Regions from separate parts of the Homo sapiens genome. Here region 1 is linked to region 2. Evidence: fine-mapped expression QTL. Tissue or cell type: whole blood. Region 2 holds a variant in brackets; the other region holds the start of a gene. All regions are shown on one strand. Distances are between the middles of the regions. Region 1 holds the start of CELF6 (CUGBP Elav-like family member 6). Region 2 overlaps ARIH1 (ariadne RBR E3 ubiquitin protein ligase 1).

What was found. PIP is the estimated chance that this variant, and not a neighbour inherited with it, causes the effect.
Region 1: it holds the start of CELF6, and the variant in region 2 is fine-mapped to the expression of CELF6 in whole blood (TOPMed, PIP 0.93).

The regions. Positions count from the first base shown.
Region 1 is chr15:72,314,766-72,323,867 of GRCh38, forward strand. It overlaps CELF6 (CUGBP Elav-like family member 6), which reads right to left and starts at 5,392. Exons shown (of 13, transcript NM_052840.5): 1 at 4,848-5,392; 2 at 1,080-1,162. The coding sequence starts at 5,109. RefSeq lists silencers at 5,079-5,418, 5,479-5,528.
Region 2 is chr15:72,479,908-72,489,009 of GRCh38, forward strand. The region is part of intron 1 of ARIH1 (ariadne RBR E3 ubiquitin protein ligase 1); the gene reads left to right. Among named protein-coding and RNA genes, the nearest start is that of ARIH1, 10 kb to the left of the region's middle. The variant C/T (reference allele first, on the strand shown) is at 4,787.

The sequences.
Region 1 (9,102 bases), 170 kb before region 2:
TGTATTTTTAGTAGAGACAGGGTTTCACCATGTTGGCCAGGCTGGTCTCGAACTCCTGACCTCAGGTGATCTGCCCGCCTTGTCCTCCCAAAGTGCTAGGATTACAGGCGTGAGCCACCGCACTCGGCCTCAAAAACCAGTATTTTTAATTATTAGCTTATGATGCCTCCCTATTAAAGTCCCTCTAAGCCCTATCTCCTCCAGTTAAATCATCCCAACTCTTCCAAACTATTATTCCAAATATATCTTGTGTCTTTACTTCATCCTCGTCTCTTTCTTGTAGACAAACGACTCTCTTAAATTTGAGAGGCCTAGAACTGGACATAGTCCCAAGTTTGGCCTGTGAATGGCATTTAAACAGTGCTCTGTTCTAGACACACCGCTTCTTGGACAAGAGAAAACAAGGCTGTATAGTATGACTTGCTCTTGGTAAACCCATGCTAGTTACTAACGATCACCCCTTTATTCTGCCATATGGTCAGTAGGTCCCACCTTGCCTTTTGTTGACTGATTATCCATTAGCCAAGACCAGACCAGGTACCATTGGTGCCTACAAGCCAAGCTGCCTGTAGAATCAGGTCTCCCCTAACTTTAGCCAAGTGTTTGCAGTGTGGAGGGAAGACAATCTTAGTGAGTCAAGGCACCAAAAATAACCATTACAGGAAAAGGACTAGAGAGAAGTTCCAGCAAGGACCTTAGGACTAGAGAAAATGGGCTACCAGTCCAGCAGAACCTCTACCCCATGTATCTGCATACATGCTCACACCAGTGACAAGAGACACCCAAAGCCATAATTTTACCAAGGTGAATAAATTCTAGCTTAGCCCTCAACACTGATGCCTCTCCTAAAAGATGGGTGGAACGCCTGGCCCAAGGATCTTGAGCCCCTTTTTTGAGCCAGAAGATTGGATGTAACAAAGAATTTGTTGCTGTTCAGGGTACAGGAAGCCCTCTCCTAGAAAGATGACTCTGCTTCTAGTTCTCGGTCCCAACCCAGCCCCCACATGCTGCTTTGGCATGCACACAGGGCACTGTCCCCAGCCTGAGGTGATTCCCACCCCCCAACCTGGAGGACTTACCCCTGGCAGGGTCTTCTGCTCGTGCAGTGCACTCTGGGCCTTGAGAGCAGAGTCCCGGGCGCAGTAGGTGAGGAAGGCACAGCCTGAGGAGGAAGAGGCTGGCTCAGGGGGTTTCCTGAAACCCCCAACTATTCTTCTTCGAAATACCCCACTAAGTTGACAAACTTAAGGCCACTCTCCTTTAAGCAAGGACTCTGCTTTCTGAGAAGCCCTCTCTGCCTCCCACCTCTGGAGGGAGGGGCTTCATGTGCCTGGGGACCAGTGTCCCAGGCTCTGGCTCCCTTTCATTTGCTCCTGGCATCCTGCCCAGAGAACATATGTGCCCACACCCAGTCACATGTGCATACAATCCCACATCTCCCCTCCCCACTCCAGTCACAAGTCCTGTTGGGGTTAAACCTCCCTAAGCAGCTTTATCATCATCTTTAACCCAGACTTCCCCTTCCTTTTTGGATTCAGACTCATGGAGTCTCCCAGGATCAGCCTCAATTCCTTCCCAACTCAGTTTCGGATGGGAGGAGGCAAAAGAGTAAAAGAAGGATTGGGAGCCAACCCCAGGAGCCCCCAGCTCTTGTCCATGTCTCCCTCCCCTAAGTTTGAAGCTGGGGAATGGATTGATTTGAGACTTAGAAGATGGGATTGGTTTAAGGGCTTCCCATAGGTGGGAGTTTCCAGGGACCCCCTAATCCTGTTCAAGGATCTTGATCTGTCAACCCTCCTAGGGCTTTGAGGTAGGGCCTCTTAAAGAGTTATTGTGCCTCAAATCTGGCTCCTCTAAAAGGGCCAGCATATATGGGTCAGCGAAGAGGTCTAGGTTGAGCCAAAGGGTCAAGTTTAGCCCTCTGTTTGTTCAGCCTCAGGACCTGTAGCCTGCTAGGAAGCACTGAAGCAGCACTCTCCTCCTTTCCAACAGCCACTGAGCACTCATTCATTCAGAAAATATTTATTGAACACTTACTTATTATGGTGGGGCATTTTGATGACCTTGGAGATAGAGTGGCAACAAGACACACATTCCCTGCCCTCATGGGGATTAGACAAATCATGAGGGACCCCTAAACAAGTCCAAAGGGTTGAGTAATGTCTCAAAGAAGGCACTGAGTCCTCGAGAACAAGAACACTGAGTCCTTAACAATCAGGTGATGAAAAGGACAGTGATTATTTCAGACAGAGGGAAAAGCATATATGAAGACTGAATCAAGAATTTGGTGTGTTGGGGAAATGGATAGGTTAGTGTGGCTGGAGGCTGGTGTATGGGGGCAGAGTGGCTAGTGAGATATGCAGGAATCAAGTCATATGTAGCCTTGTGGGCCTCAGTTGGATTTTGAACTTTTTCCTAAGAGCAATAGAGAGCCACTTTAAAGGGTTTTAAGCAGATCTGTGAGATGATAAGATCTGTTTTCAAAAGGAGCATTCTGAGTGTAGGAGGGAGAAGGACTGAAGGAGGAGAAAGTGGATATGGTGAGCCATTAGGAACTTGGGGCAGATTTCCACTTAGACCTCAGCAGATTAGAAAGGCAAATGGGAACATTTTTTTCTGGCCTCTTCTACAGGGCTGCCCCATTAAGATGGGTTTATTGCCGGACATTCATTGAGTTAAAGGGAACTTAGAGAACTGAGCAAAACTCTTATCACATCAACAGGGAAACTGAAGCCCAGAGAGTGGGTCAGTGGCAGGGCAGGATTTGGAATGTCTTAACTCCCAAGCTGGGGTTGTTTTCAAAGCACTGTGGCTGCCTGCCTCGGTACCCAGACATCAAAAGGAAAATGAGTCACTGTTTCTGGGGAGAGGATGAGGAAGATGTTGACTTGGAGACCCTCTACAATCATCTTGGAAGGCAACACTTGCCTTGGAGAGTTGTGATTTAGTTTGGAAATAAATCACCAAACACCTGATTCCACTTACATCCCTGCTCTGTGTTTTGCTACCAACCCATATCACCTGACGTCCAAACCGGGCAGGTTGCCTGTCTGAAAGGCTCAGGGGCCCAGTTGCTGCCTAAAGAAGCCCCATGTGGACTAGCCGGGATAGAGGGTGGAAGAATGAAGGGAAGAAAAGACAGAGAAGCATGGTTTGAGAGACAGATGAATGAAAATAACAGGCAGAATTAGAGCTAAATGAAAAGAGAGAGGATGAGGGAACAGTTCAGAGACTGATAGTGAGAAGAGTGAGATTTAAGGGTATTCTATACACTTCCCTTATTGTACGGATGGCCTACAAAGATTAGCTTTGTATGTACATCCTGAAATCAATGTCTAAAAATAAGAAAATGAGTTACTACAGAGGGATGGACAGACAGGCAGGTAGTGGGAGTGCATTAGAAGGACTCTAGATGGTGAGGTATTGTCCTTTCATACACCCATTAACACAATCCCAGCCCAAAGGGTGGAAGCTGTACTCCTAGCCAGATGGTCCTAGCTCTTCTATTGGCATTTTCTCGAAGTGCCTACATTAGTGTGCCAAGGAACCCTACGAGGCCTCCAAGTTGAAGAGGTGGCAGTCTGATTCCAGCTCTCAGTCCTTAGGAATGTACCTTTAGCTGTTACCCAAGGCCCACCACTCCTCTCTTAGGAAGATCATGGAGGATAGTTGGTGACTCTTTCCCAGCAAAAACTTGAAAGCACAGCATGGTGGTGGTGGTGGGGGAGGAGATAAGAGTGTTCCTTCTCAAATCATCTCCCCTTCTCCTGCCCATGTATGACATGTGACTCTGGCTCTCTTACTCCAGCCCTGCCTGGACAGACTTTTCTGCATGTAAACAAGCCTCCTCCCTCTCTCTACAGGAAGAAAGGGGTGTGGCCGAACAGGACCGTGTATCTCTCTAGAAAGGGCAGGGAGAAGATCTCCTTCTGTCTCTTCAGCCTGACTCACCCTGAGAATGGGCCTGGACTGGGACCAGCCTGTGAGGGGAGGGAAAGAAAGAGGCCATAAAGAGGACTGGGGAGGAGCAAAGAAGAGGCACAGGAGTGAGGGGATTAGAGAAGGAAAGAAGTGTGGATTTAGCTGAGAGAAATCCAAGAAGAAAGGGACACAGGGTGGCAGGAGTTCCCAGCTGAGGTCAGGGTTCTGAACTGAAATCAAAAGAGGTAGAGTGCATTGGGATTCTGGCGAAGGGCAGGAGAGATTGGGGCTGTTGTTGAACATGAGGGGGTGTCTGGAACTGAGAGCCTCCTGGGAATTGAATTGGATTTTGTGTTAGACAGGTCTGGGTTCTGAAGAAGGGGAGGGTTTGGGTCTGCGGTGTTTTAGGTTGGCAGTCTGAGAGTCAAAAGAAGGCTCTTGAGGGGGATGGCCGGACTAGGAGGCCAGAGGAGGGGTGCAAGTCCAAGATATGCATGTGGGTGGTTAGGCCTGAGTGAGGTGCCACCAGATGGAGGATTCAGGAGTGTTTGGGCTCAGGGTTTGGGAAATTGAGGGTATTCGAGATCTAGAAGGTGGAATAAGTTTTCAAATTCCAGAATTTTAGGTCTGATGGGAGAGGTGGTGGAAAGGTCCAATTGAAAGGCAGGGACTGCTGGGATGTGAGAGGTGGAGGCCAGGAATTTGGAGGTTAGAGTGGAGAACATGTTAGGGGACCACAGTGATAATCAGAGGGAGGATGTCAGAGAGAAAATTCTGTGATCTGGGAAGGGGGCTGGGCTGAGGTGGGGCTGATATTGGACTGGTGTTGGACTGGCTCTCGGCAGGGCTAGGGCTGGGGCTGGGCTGGGGTCGGGCCACACTCTAATCGGATTGGGGCTGGGCTGGGCTGGGCTGACCCCGCGCACCTTTGTGGAGGCCGGTGAGCCGGTCCTTCAGCACCGTCAGCTCGTAGATGCGGCCGAACTCCTCGAACAGCGGCTTGAGGTCCTGCTCGTCCAAGCCCCGCGGGATCTGCCCCACGAAGAGCTTGATGGCGTCGTGGTCCTTCATGGGTACGGCGGGACCGGGGTTTAGCCCGCTCATGCCGACGCCGCTGTCCGCGGTGCTGAAACCCAGGCGCGGGCCGGGGCCAGCGGGCTGCGCTGACCCTCCCGGCGCCGCGGCCATGTCCCCGCCCTGTCAGCCCTCCCGCCGGTCCCACTGGTCCCGCCTGTCCCGCCGTCCCCTCCCTGGACCGGTGGCGAGGGCCAGGGGGAGGGGGCGGAGCCCGGGCGGAGAGGGCGGGGGGCTGCCCAGGGGGCGGGGTCCGGGTGGAGGGGCGTAGAGGGGGTGGGGCGGGCAGGAAAGGGGCGGGGCCGGGGCGGGGCGGGCCCGGGCCGAGGTGGCGGCTGAACGCTGGGGTCTGGCTTGAGGTCCCCGTGCGGCTCTCTCTGGGCTCCCGCCCGAGCTCTCCCAGAGCCGAGCCCCGAGCCCCAGCCCCCGTGCTTGGTGACGTCAGGCAGCTGGCCGCCGAGTCTACGCAAATGATTTGCATAATGAGGAAGCAGCCGCCAATCAGAGTGGGAGTTGACTGGGCTCGCCGGGGGCGGGGGGGGCGGCTGGGCTCACGCGCTCCTGCTCGCCATGGCAACCGGACCCTCGAATGCCCTGTGTGTGTCGAGTGTGTGCGGGCGTGGCCGTGGATCGCGCGTGTGCGCCTTGGGCCGCGTGAGGGGAAGCAGCTTCGTCATGCGTGATGGTGTCTGCCGGAGTCGGGGCTAATCCCCACCGCACACACAGGCACACACAGGCAAACGCAGGCACACGCAGGCACACACACCTCCAAACGCTGGTGCGTTTCCTGCGGGGGTGGATGGGGATTCCTCTTCTCTATTCCCACTATCGAGCCAGTCCCTCGGAGCCAATCCCACCCCGCCCCATCACACATCTCTGTCTTCGGTGTCTTTAACCACTTTCTTACCCCTGAGCCTCAGACACATTCGTCTCCCTTGCAGCCTTAAAAAGAAAGGAAGAATAAAATAAAAACCCCTTAAACACTCCTTGAACACGGATTCCTCCTTAGGAGAGTGAGGGAACTTAGCCGTATTTACTCAGAACCCATTATGCACCAGGTGCCCAGTTCATCCCAGTTCTGTGAACTCAGGAGTGTTCTCTTTTTCCGGAAAAGGAAGCTGAGGTTCTGAGGGTCGAGGATGTTAGGGCCAGGCCCACCCCAACATTTGTTGGGCCCAGCGCAAAATAAGAAATGGAAATCGACATACTGTGCATCTAAACATTTAAAAGATACAAATCAAATTACAATTTGTTAAATATGTTCCCCTCTTATTTTCACAAATACAGGTTCAGAATTACGAAAATGAAAGACATATGTACAGCTACGCTTTCTATATGACTGAAAGTTGGCAAAATATCAGAGCTGATGGAATTTTATTACTCCTGCACATGTCTAGGTATTCTCTTGATGGATCAGTGATGTTTGCACAAAGTAGTAATACAATGTTTGGACAAAGACACATACTTCATAAATTATATATTTATTCCATAATATATTTTTCATGCCTCTTTCAGTAAAATTGCTAATTATTTTAATAGAGATTTCCTTTTTTTTTTTTTGATAGGTTATCATTCTGTCACCCAGGCTGTAGTGCAGTGGTGCGATCTAAGATCACTGCAGCCTCAACCTCCTGGGTTCAAGCGATCCTCCCACCTAAGCCTCCCAAGTAGCTGGGATGACAGGTGCACGCTACCATGCCTGGATAATTTTTTTTCTTTTTTTTTTTTTGTAGAGATGGTGGTTTCACCATTCTGCCCAGGCTTGTCTAGAACACTCCTGAGCTCAAGTGATCCACCCACCTCGGTGCCCCAGAGTGCTGGGATTACAGGAGTGTGCCACTGCACCTGGCCTAATAGAGATTTTAACATAACTTGTGTCCATTGACTATTCTAAGAAACTGCTGGAGACCAGCAGTAGCAACTGGAATCATCAAAAAGTTCTTAAAACAATATTCAATTCAGAAGCAAATCATGATTTTTAAATGATTTATTTTTCTGGCTGAGCATGGTGACTCACACCTGTAATCCCAGCACTTTGGGAGGCCAAGGCGGGCAGATCACTTGAGGTCAGGAGTTCAAGACCAGCCTGGCCAACATGACAATATCCCGTCTCTACTAAAAATACAAAAATTAGCCAGGCATGGTGGCGGGCTCCTCCTACTCTGGAGGCTGAAGCAGGAGAATCGTTTGAACCCACGAGGTGGAGGTTGCAATGAGCCAAGATCGTGTCACTGCACTCCAGCCTGGGTGACAGAGTGAGATTCCATCTCAAAAAAAAAAAAAAAATGCAGCAGCAAATTATGATTTTCAAAAATCATTTTTCTGGCGGGATGCGGTGGCTCACACCAGTAATCCCAGCACTTCAGGAGGCCGAGGTGGGTGGATTGCTTGAGATCAGGAGTTTGAGACCAGCCTGGCCAATATGGCAAAACCCCATTTTTACTAAATGAATAAATAAATAAAATAAATTATTTTTCTCCTTTAACAGAAAGTTACTCCTTGTAATAAGTTGACCACGAAATGGGTTACTGGAATTTCATTTTCATTCAGTCCTATGTAGTTTTTTTTTTTTTTTTTTTTTTGAGATGGAGTCTTGCTCTGTCGCCCAGGTTGGAGTGCACTGGCCCGATCTCAGCTCACTGCAAGCTCCGCTTCCCGGGTTCACGCCATTCTCCTGCCTCAGCCTCCCGAGTAGCTGGGACTACGGTTGCCCGCCACTACGCCCAGCTAATTTTTTTTGTATTTTTAGTAGAGATGGCGTTTCACCATGTTAGCCAGGATGGTCTCGATCTCCCGAGCTCGTGATCTGCTTGCCTAGGCCTCCCAAAGTGCTGGGATTACAGGTGTGAGCCACCATGCCTGGCCCAGTCCTATGTATTTTTTAAAATTTTCACCCCAAAAGTAGTAAAACAATTCAAAAATCAGAACAAAGTTCTCTGCAGAAAAAGAAAAATACAGTAAAAAATTTCCTTGAGGCTTCCTCTTTGATCCATATATTATTTATAAATGTATTGTTTAGTTTCTAAGTGTTTGGAGGTTTGCCTATTATTTTTCTGTTATTGATTTCTAGTTTGAGTCCATTGTGGTCAGAACACACTGTGTATAATTTCAATTTTTTTTTTTTTGAGATGGAGTCTCGCTTTTGTCACCCAGGCTGGAGTGCAGTGGCGTGATCTTGGCTCACTGCAACCTCTGCTTCCCGGGTTCAAGCAATTCTCCTGCCTCAGCCTCCTGAGTAGCTGGGATTGCAGGCACCCGCCACCATGCCCGGCTAATTTTTGTACTTTTAGTAGAGATGGGGTTTCACCATGTAGTCCAGTCTGGTCTCCAACTCCTGACCTCAGGTGATCCGCCTGCCTCAGCCTCCCAAAGTGCTGGGATTACAGGTGTGAGCCACTGAGCCTGGCCTCAATTCTTTTGCATTTGTTGAGGTTTGTTTTGCTACCCTCAGTCCCAAGCCTGGGACTACAGGCGCCTGCCACCACACTCAGCTATTTTTTTTGTATTTTTAGTAGAGATGGGGTCTCACCATGTTGGCCAGGCTGGTCTCAAACTCCTGACCTCAAGTGATCCGCTCCCCTTGGCCTCCCAAAGTGCTGGGATTAAAGGTGTGAGCCACTGTGCCCAACCTTGTATTTTTAGTAGAGAAGCGGTTTCACCATGTTGGCCAGGCTGGTCTTGACCTCCTGACCTCAAGTGATCTGCCCACCTCAGCCTCCCAAAGTGCTGGGATTACAAGTGAGAGCCACAGTGCCTGGCCCTATATGCTTGCTGATTTTGTCTAGTTGTTTTATCAATTGTTGAGAGAAAGGTGTTGAAGACTTCAATTGTAATTGTGGATTTGTCTATTTCTCCTTTCAGTTCCATTAGTTTTTGCTTCACATATTCTGTAGCTCTGTCATTTGGGGCATAAACATTAAAAACTGTGATGCCTTGATGAATTGATACTTTTATTATTATGCAATGTCACTCTGTTCTTGGTAAGCTTTTTGTGTGGAGAGCTACTTTGATATTAATATAGCCATTTATGTTTTCTTTTGATTAATCTTTGCAAAATATACCTTTTTCTATCCTTTTACTTTCAAGCTACGTATATAGCTGTATTTA
Region 2 (9,102 bases):
CCCAGGCTGGAGTGCGGTGGTGCGATCTCGGCTCACCGCAAGCTCCGCCTCCTGGGTTCACGCCATTCTTCTGCCTCAGCCTCCCGAGTAGCTGGGACTACAGGCAGCCGCTACCATGCCTGGCTAATTTTTTTGTATTTTTTAGTAGAGATGGGGTTTCACCATGTTAGCCAGGATGATCTGGATCTCCTGACCTCGTGATCCGCCCACCTCGGCCTGCCAAAGTGCTGGGATTACAGGCATGAGCCACCGTGCCCGGTCAACAGTGTACTATTCTAGCATATTGTTTACTGATTGGGGAGTCAGTTATAGCCCTGGTTTTTACTCTGTCTAGTTAATATCTCAGAACCTTCAAATTTTTTTTTTTTTTTTTTATACATGTCTCACTGTGTCACCCAGGCTGGAGTGCAGTGGCCTGATCTTGGCTCACTGCAACCTCCACTTCCAGGGTTCAAGCGATTCTCCTGCTTCAGCCTCTCAAGTAACTGGGATTACAGGCACGCGCCACCACACCCAGCTATTTTTTGTATTTTATTAGAGATGAGGTTTCACCATGTTGGCCAGGCTGGTCTCGAACTCCTGACCTCAAATGATCGACCTACCTTGGCCTCCCAGAGTGTTGGGATTATAGGCATGAGCCACGGTGCCCAGCCACACTTTTTGTTGTTGTTGTTGAGATGGAGTTTCTCTCTTGTTGCCCAGGCTGGAGTGCAATGACGCGATCTCAGCTCACTGCAACCTCTGCCTCCCAGGTTCAAGCGATTCTCCTGCCTCAGCCTCCTGAGTAGCTAGGATTACAGGCGTATGCCACCACGCCTGGCTAATTTTGTATTTTTAGTAGAGATGGGGGTTTCTCCATGTTGGTCAGGCTGGTCTCAAACTCCCGACCTCAGGTGATCTGCCCGCCTCGGCCTCCCAAAGTTCTGGGATCACAGTGAGCCACCTTGCCCGGCCTTGTTTTGTTTTTAATCTGGGACTGAAAATGAGGGAGTTGAAATACTAGGTTGGTCCTTTTTTACATTAAGTGTTTTATTCGTTTAACATCATTTTAAAAACCTCAGTTAATTGGAGATGTTCATTTTTTCCAAGAAATTGAATTCAGGTGTGCATATTGTGGTTATGTTCATTAATTGGGAGAGGAGGAAGAGGGTGTACAAGCCTGTGCATGATGTGTGCAGGCACATGTGTTTTGAAGTTATTAAAGTGTTTGATATAGTTTAGATTTATTTCTTTTGGACTTTTATATTTTCCCAGCTGATCTCCTTGAGCTGTAAGTTTAAATTACACTGACTTGTTGAATTGCTATGGCAGTAGTCCTATGAATCAAACTCTGGGGATGGGGTCTGGCTGTCTGTTTTAACAAGCCTTCTAGGTGATGGTGATGCAAGCTAAAGTTTGAGAACTGCTGATGTAGTTGAAATTTAATAGCAGTGTTTCTCTATGTGTTACGTGTAGTGATAGATTACTACAGAGGTGGGTTAATGAGGGAAGATAAATTGTTTAAGAAACTAATAATAGGGGACCAGTCACGGTGGCTCACACCTGTAATCCCAGCACTTTGGGGACTGTGCCAGGCAGATCACTTGAGGTCAGGAGTTTGAGACCAGCCTGGCCAATATGGTGAAACACTAGCTGGGCGTGGTGGCCTGTGCCTGTAATCCCAGCTACTTGGGAGACTTGAGGCAGGAGAATTGCTTGAACCTGGGAATTGGAGGTTGCAGTGAGCTGAGATAGTGTCACTGCACTCTAGCCTGGGTGACAGAGGGAGACTCTACTTCAAAAAAAAGGTAATAATGGGAAAATTTCCAGAACCTAGGCAACGTTTACTAGGCTAATCATAGGGTTGGAAGATGTTTGTCATCGTAGATGCTATCCTTCATGCTATGCTATCCTTCAGCTAAGGTGGTCTTTACTCAGTATTTTCTTTTCTTTTCTTTTCTTTTTTGGAGACAGAGTCTTTTCTCTCTTGCCCAGGCTGGGGTGCAGTGGCGCCATCTCGGCTCACTGCAACCTTCGCCTGCTGGGTTCAAGCGATTCTCCTCCTTCAGCCTCCCGAGTAGCTGGGATTACAGGCGCCCACCACTACGCCCGGCTAATTTTGTATTTTTGGTAGAGACGGGGTTTCACCATGTTGGCCAGGCTGATCTCGAACTCCTGACCTCAGGTGATCCACCCGACTTGGCCTCCCAAAGTGCTGGGATTACAGGCATGAGCCACTGCACCCGGCCAGTATTTTCAAATAGACAAACTAAACTAGTGACATCTGACATTCTAGATTGGAGTTCTTGATTTCCCTTCCAGTCCTAGATTTTTTTAATATAGAATGTTGAGTTTTCTAATTTATTAGTATGCTGGAAGAGATATAAAGTCCTGGATAGATATAAAGTCCTGTTTAAAGGAATATGAGAAGACTTATTCTTAAGGAGTTGAGAATCTCTTAGAGTTAAAGCTGTTAGGTTAGTGAGTAATTTAAATAAGTGGATAGTAATAGATACTCATGGAAGAGACCTCTGTAGGTGTTGTCAAAGATGGCTAGGATTTGGGTGGATAAAAAAGAGGAAGTCATTCTAAGGAACTGAATGAGGTGAGAATGAGGAGAGTTTTTGGGTAATGGTGAAATCAGCTAAAGTAGAATGGAGCTTATAAATGCTGGATAATAATGTAGAACCTGGGAGATTAAATACTGTGATGAAAGGTAAGCAGAAGTCATCACATTAGATTCTTTTGGGGTTGACCTGTGGTAACTATGTAGATTGGTTATCTTTTGCCTTATGTTACCCCAAAACTTAGTGGCTTAAAAAAACAAGGATCTGTTATATCATAGTTTCTGTGAGTCACAATTCTGGATGCAGCTTACCTGGGGGCCTCTGGCTTATGGTCTCTTACAAGGCTGCAACCAAGGTGACGGCTTGGTAGCAGTTCTCTCTCTCTCTTTTTTTTTTTTTTTTTTAAAGACAGAGGCTTGCTGTGGTGCCCAGGCTGGAGTGCAATGGCATAATCTCGGCTCATTGCAACCCTCACCTCTTGAGTCCAAGTGATCCTCTTACCTCAGCCTCCTGAGTAGTTGGGACTATAGATGTGCACCACCACACCCCAGCTTATTTTTTTGTTTTTGTGGGTTTTTTGGTAGAGACCAGTATTTTTTTGTTTTGCCATGTTGCCTAGGCTGCTCTTGAACACCTTAATTCAAGGGATCTGCCCGCCTTAGCCTCCTAAAGTGCTGGGATTACAGGCATGAGCCACCGTGTCTGGCCTGGGTAGCAGTCCTCAAGGCTTGACTGGGGAAGCTTCCCCTTCCGAGCTCACTCATTTGGCTGTGACCAGGCCAGATTTTCACTGGCTGGTTGTTGCCCAGAGATATCAGTTCCTTGCCATGTGGGCCTCTCCATAAAGTGGCTGACAACACAGTAGCTTGTTTCCTCCAGAGTGAGGGATCTTAGAGAAAAGGCCCATACGATGGAAGCCACAAAGTTTTTATAACTTAATTTCAGAAGTAACGTCGCATCACTTTGCAATATTCTATTTGTTGTAAGTGAATAACCAAATCCAGCCCATACTCAATCGGAGGGGATTATACAAAGATGTGAAGACCAGGAGGCAGGGGTCTTTGGGGGCTATCTTAGAGGCCGGCTGTTTGTCTCTGTCTCTCTCTGTTAAGAGGTAAATTACAGCTATTGTATAATGCCTTTCTATCCAATCTTTTTGTATGCTATTGGGAGAACATAGTGTTTTGGATTTTTTATTTTGGATTAACCGTAAATTAATTACTTTTGGCTTTGCAAAACATTATACCTGTAAATGATAAACATTCCTAATAACCTTTCAGTGGCTTAAGTTTAAAATAGCTTGTAGTCTCAGAATTGGTAGGAATTTGAGATTCTCCAGTTTACTGATTTTTTTTTTTTTTAACTCTAGCTACGTAATGGAATCACCTGGGGATTTTTTTCATTACTGTTTTTAAAATAGAAAATTGTAGATTCACAGCCGGGCATGGTGGCTCACGCCTGTAATCCCAGCACTTTGGGAGGCCGAGGCAGGCGGATCACCTGAAGTCAGGAGTTCGAGACCAGCCTGGCCAAATGGCGAAACCCCGTCTCTACTAAAAAAATACAAAAATTAGCCGGGCATGGTGGTGGGCGCCTGTAATCCCAGCTACTCGGGAGGCTGAGGCAGGAGAATCACTTGAACCCAGGAGACAGAGGTTGCAGTGAGCCAAGATTATGCCATTGCACTCCAGCCTGGGCAACAAGAGTGAAACTCCATCAAAAAAAAAAAAAAAAAAGAAGAAAAGAAAAGAAAATTGTAGATTCACATGCAGTTACAAGAAATAATGCAAAAATCCCACATATTCTTTTTTCCAAAAAATTTTATTTCCCTAGGTTATTGGGGAAGAGGTGGTATTTGGTTACATAAGTAAATTCTTTAGTGGTGATTTGTGAGATTTTGGTGCACCCATCATCTGAGCAATATACACTGAACCCAGTTTGTAGTGTTTTATCTCTCACCCCCTTCTCACCTTTTTCCCCCGAGTCCCCAGAGTTCATTATATCAATCTTAGGCTTTTGCATGCTGATAGCTTAGCTCCCACTTATGAGTGAGAACATATAATGTTTGGTTTTCTGTTCTTGATTTACTTCTCTTAGAATAATAAGTCTCCAATCCCATCCAGGTTGATGCAAATGCCATTAACTCATTCCCTTTTATGGCTGAGTAGTATTCCATCATATATATATATATATGTGTATATATATATGTGTGTGTATACATATATATACGTATATGTATG[C/T]GTGTGTATACGTATATACGTATATGTATGTGTGTGTATATATGTATATATATATGTGTGCATACATATATATGTGTATATATATACATATATATACACACACACACACACACCACAGTTTCTTTATCCACTTGTTGATTGATGGGCATTTGGGCTGGTTCCCCATTTTTGCAGTTGCGAATTGTACTGCTACAAATGGCGTGTGCAAGTATCTTTTTCGTATAATGACTTTTCCTCTGGGTGGATACCCAGTAGTGTGATTGCTGAATCAAATAGTAGTTCTACTTTTAGTTCTTTAAGGAATCTCCACACTGTTTTCTATAGTGGTTGTACTAGTTTACATTCCCACCAGCAGCGTAGAAGTGTTCCCTTCTCACCACATCCATGACAACATCTATTATTTTTTAATTTTTTGATTATAGCCATTCTTGGCGTGACTGAAGTTGTATAGCATTGAATCCCACGTACTCTACCGATTTTTTCTACAGTGGTAACATCTTATAAAAACAGTATCTTGCAAAACATCTTGCACAGTATCACCATGAGGGTAATGACATTGATGTGATCTTACTCAGATTTTCTTACCTGGGGATTTTAAAAAATACAGGCAGGCAGGCCCTACCCCATACCAAGTAAGTGGGTCTCTGGGGGGTTTGGACCAGGCATTGCCGTTAAACAAGAATCTTTCCTGGATTATTTTAATGCACATCCAGGATCGAGAGCTCCTGCTTTTGTAAGAAATCTTTCTAAAACACTGCCGTCTCTGCTTAACTACAAATAAATAACAGTGAGCTATTTTTGTGATGCATCTCAATACAGTGTTTGCCTATTGATTTTTTTTTTTAATGGAAAGAAAATCTACTTCCGTATTAGCTTTCACTCATTGTTCTTAGTACCTGTAGCACCCTGAATGGTTTTGTTTTTTATATAACTATCATTTTGGAATCCTGAAGGAAAAATTTTTCTTCCTGAGGTTAATCAACCCCCCTTTCCTCAGTCATTCCTGCCTTCTAGGTAATTGCTGTCTTTCTTATAATAGGCATAGTATCATAGGCCATAACTTTGCTAAATTATTGACTGTATATACACAACTCATCGTTTGATCTTGACACTATATTACTATGTAACTTTGTATAAATAGCTTAATTATTTTCATTAAATGATGGGATAAATAGAAGAATGAGAATTTATTTAGGTTGACATTATTGGATGAGATAGTAATCAGGCTGTTTCTAACCTGGAGTGACTGGATCCTTTGGGGCCCATGGAGATAGTAGTGGTGGTCCTTGCATTATTTTCAGTGTTTTAAAAAGCCTCATGTATATTTTTTTAAAAAGCTGTCAAGCCACTTTTATAAAGTCAGTAGATTTCTATAATCACTTATGATTTAAGTTTCTTTCTAAATTTTTAATTTTTTTTTCCCTAAATTGTCATTCACCTAGTGATAGGAGGTCATCTGGCTTGACCATACAATGGTTTCCCCTTATCTACAGTTTCAGTTTCCAAGGTTTCAGTTACCTGAGGTGTGCAGCAGTCTGAAAATATTAAATAGAAAATTTCAGAAAAAAACAATTTGTAAGTTTTAAATTGTACACCATTCTGAGTAGTGTGATGAAATCTCTCACCATCCCACCCAGGACGTGAATCATCCCTTTATCCAGTATATAGCAGTATATAGACTACCTACCTGCTACTGGCCTCGGCTGGTCACTTCACTGTTACCAGATTGAAAAAACATAGCATGTATAAGTTCGGTATTACCTACACTTTCAAGCTTCCACTGAGGGTCTTGGGACATGTTCCCTGAGGATGAAGGGGACTGCTGTAATGTCTCATTTGATACAGCTTGGGGTATAGTTGATGCCCAGTTAGTGTTTAAGTGATGGATAGTATGCTATCTCAGAAGGTGGCTTAAAAAATTCTTAATGCTCTCTAACATCTGCTCTGGCAAATCAGCTTTCCAGAGCCCTACTTTTTTTTTTTTTCATTTTTAAAAATGACTTTTTTTTTTTTTTTTTTTTTGAGACAGAGTCTCTGTGGCCCAGGCTGGAGTGCAGTGGCATGATCTTGGCTCACTGCAACCTCTACCTCCTGGGTTCAAGTGATTATCGTGCCTCAGCCTCCCAATTAGCTGAGATTACAGGCATGCATCACCACACCTGGCTAATTTTTGTATTTTTTGGTAGAGACAGGGTTTCACCATGTTGGCCAGGCTGGTCTCGAACTCCTGTCTTCAGGTGATCCGCCCTCCTCAGCCTCCCAAAGTGCTGAGATACAGGCATGAACCACTGTGCCCAGCCTGACAATTTTGGTTTTAAGGCCAAAAGTTTGAAGATTTAAATGAAAAATGCCAAATATTCAGGAATTTTCTCCTATTATTATTATTATTTTTTTTTGTATGTAAATATTGTTGTGTAGTATTGTTCTTTCCTTTTTTGCTCTGTTCCATTTAAAAGTGTCAGAAGTGCCCTGACAATACATTTTGGCAAAAAACAGAGCAGGTAATGAAGTATTAGGTAACATTTTCTTGTTACTGAGACATTTGCTTAGACAATGCTAAGAATAGCTATCATCCTAGACACTTCTCCCCAGGCTTGCTTTGCCATTGCCTTTGAAACTGTCATACTTATAACTCAGATATTAACTGGCTCTAATTACCTGGTAATATGTCCTCTCTCCTAATCACAATTGTACAGTGTTTTTAGGGATAAAGTGTAAACTAGAAACCGAGAAGTATTACCTGATTCTTAGCAAGTATTTATAAGTGAAAGCCTCTAATGTGGACATTTATCTTGGAATTTGTGACATTTGGACAGATATTTATCTGAAACTTACTTGAAACTCAAATTTAATACCTTCTCTCTTTGAGGCTTTTCCCCCTTTTATTGGCTTATCTGAGAACCATTCTTGGGATTTGAGTCATCCTTTTTTTTTTCCTTCATTTTCCACATCCAGTTATCCCTGATCAAGTTACCTCTGAAATTTGTTTCATGTTGTTGCTATCCTTTTTACTAACTAATCCTAGTTTAGGACCTTTTTATTTTGCCTCCTTGTCTCTGGGCTTCCAGTGTATCATTCTGTTACCAAACACAAATTTAATAGTCATCCTCCTGCTAAAAAGAGACTTTCTGTCAAAAGTCTATCCCAGACTCCTTACTATGGCATTCATGGCTTCCCCATCTTAACATAGCTAATTTTTTTCAATCTCATCTGCAGTTGTTCCTCATCCCTTATCACCCCCAGTTGCACTGTTTGTAATTCTTTACTGTGTAACACATATTTGTGTTTTCATGCTTTTGTTCATACTTGTCCCTCTTCTTTTGATACCTTTTCTTTTCTTTCTGTCTCTCTTTTTTCTTGAGACAGGGTTTTTGCTCTGTTGCTCAGGCTGGAGTGCAGTGGCACGATCACGGCTCACTACAGCCTTGAACTCCTGGGCTCAAGCGATCCTCCCACCTCAGCCTCCTGAGTAGCTGGGACTACAGTTGCATGCCACTACACCTGGCTAATTTTTTGTATTATTATTTTTATTTATTTATTTTTTGTTTGTTTGTTTTGTTTTTGGTAGAGACAATTTTTTGCCATGTTGCCTAGACTGGTCTCGACCTCCTGGACTCAAACGATCTTCCCACCTCAGCCTCCCAAAGTGTTGGGATTACAGGCATGAGCCACCGTGCCCAGCTCTCTTTCTCTTCTTAACTGCCTGATATATTCCTATTGAGAATCTGCCAGGCTGGCTGCGGTGGCTCATCTCCTTTCAGGTTCTTCTCTACCTTTCCTGTGCTTCCTTATCTATGTTTGAATAGTGCTTCATATGGATATTTGGTATAGCCTATAAGAGGTTATGATATAGCTATCCCTATATCCAAGCCTCTAGCTATATATGAGGGTTTTGAAGGTGAGAACTAAAACTCCTTCATCTTTGTGTTCATAGCAGAGTTTCTTCTCTGACAGAAGAAACTCAGTAAATATTTGTTGAAGTTTGTCCTTGCCTAGTAAATGCTTGCTTTCTCAGTTTCCTTGTGGTAAACCAAAGGGATCCAGACAAGATTTTCTTCTGGCACTAACAAATTATTTTATGATTTCTAGATAATGCCAAAGTGGTAGTGTAAGAAGATGGCAAGGAAGAAATGTTTGAATTCCAAGAGGACAAGCTTCTTAAGGTCCCTGAATATTCAACCTTTTAGGTGAAGCTTTATTATTTGCGTATAGTTCCCTGGCGCTGGGTGTGAACTGACACAGTGATGATGTTAAAGACAGTGGAATCACCCAGGTGCAGTGGCTCACGCCTGCAATCCCACAACTTTGGGAGGTTG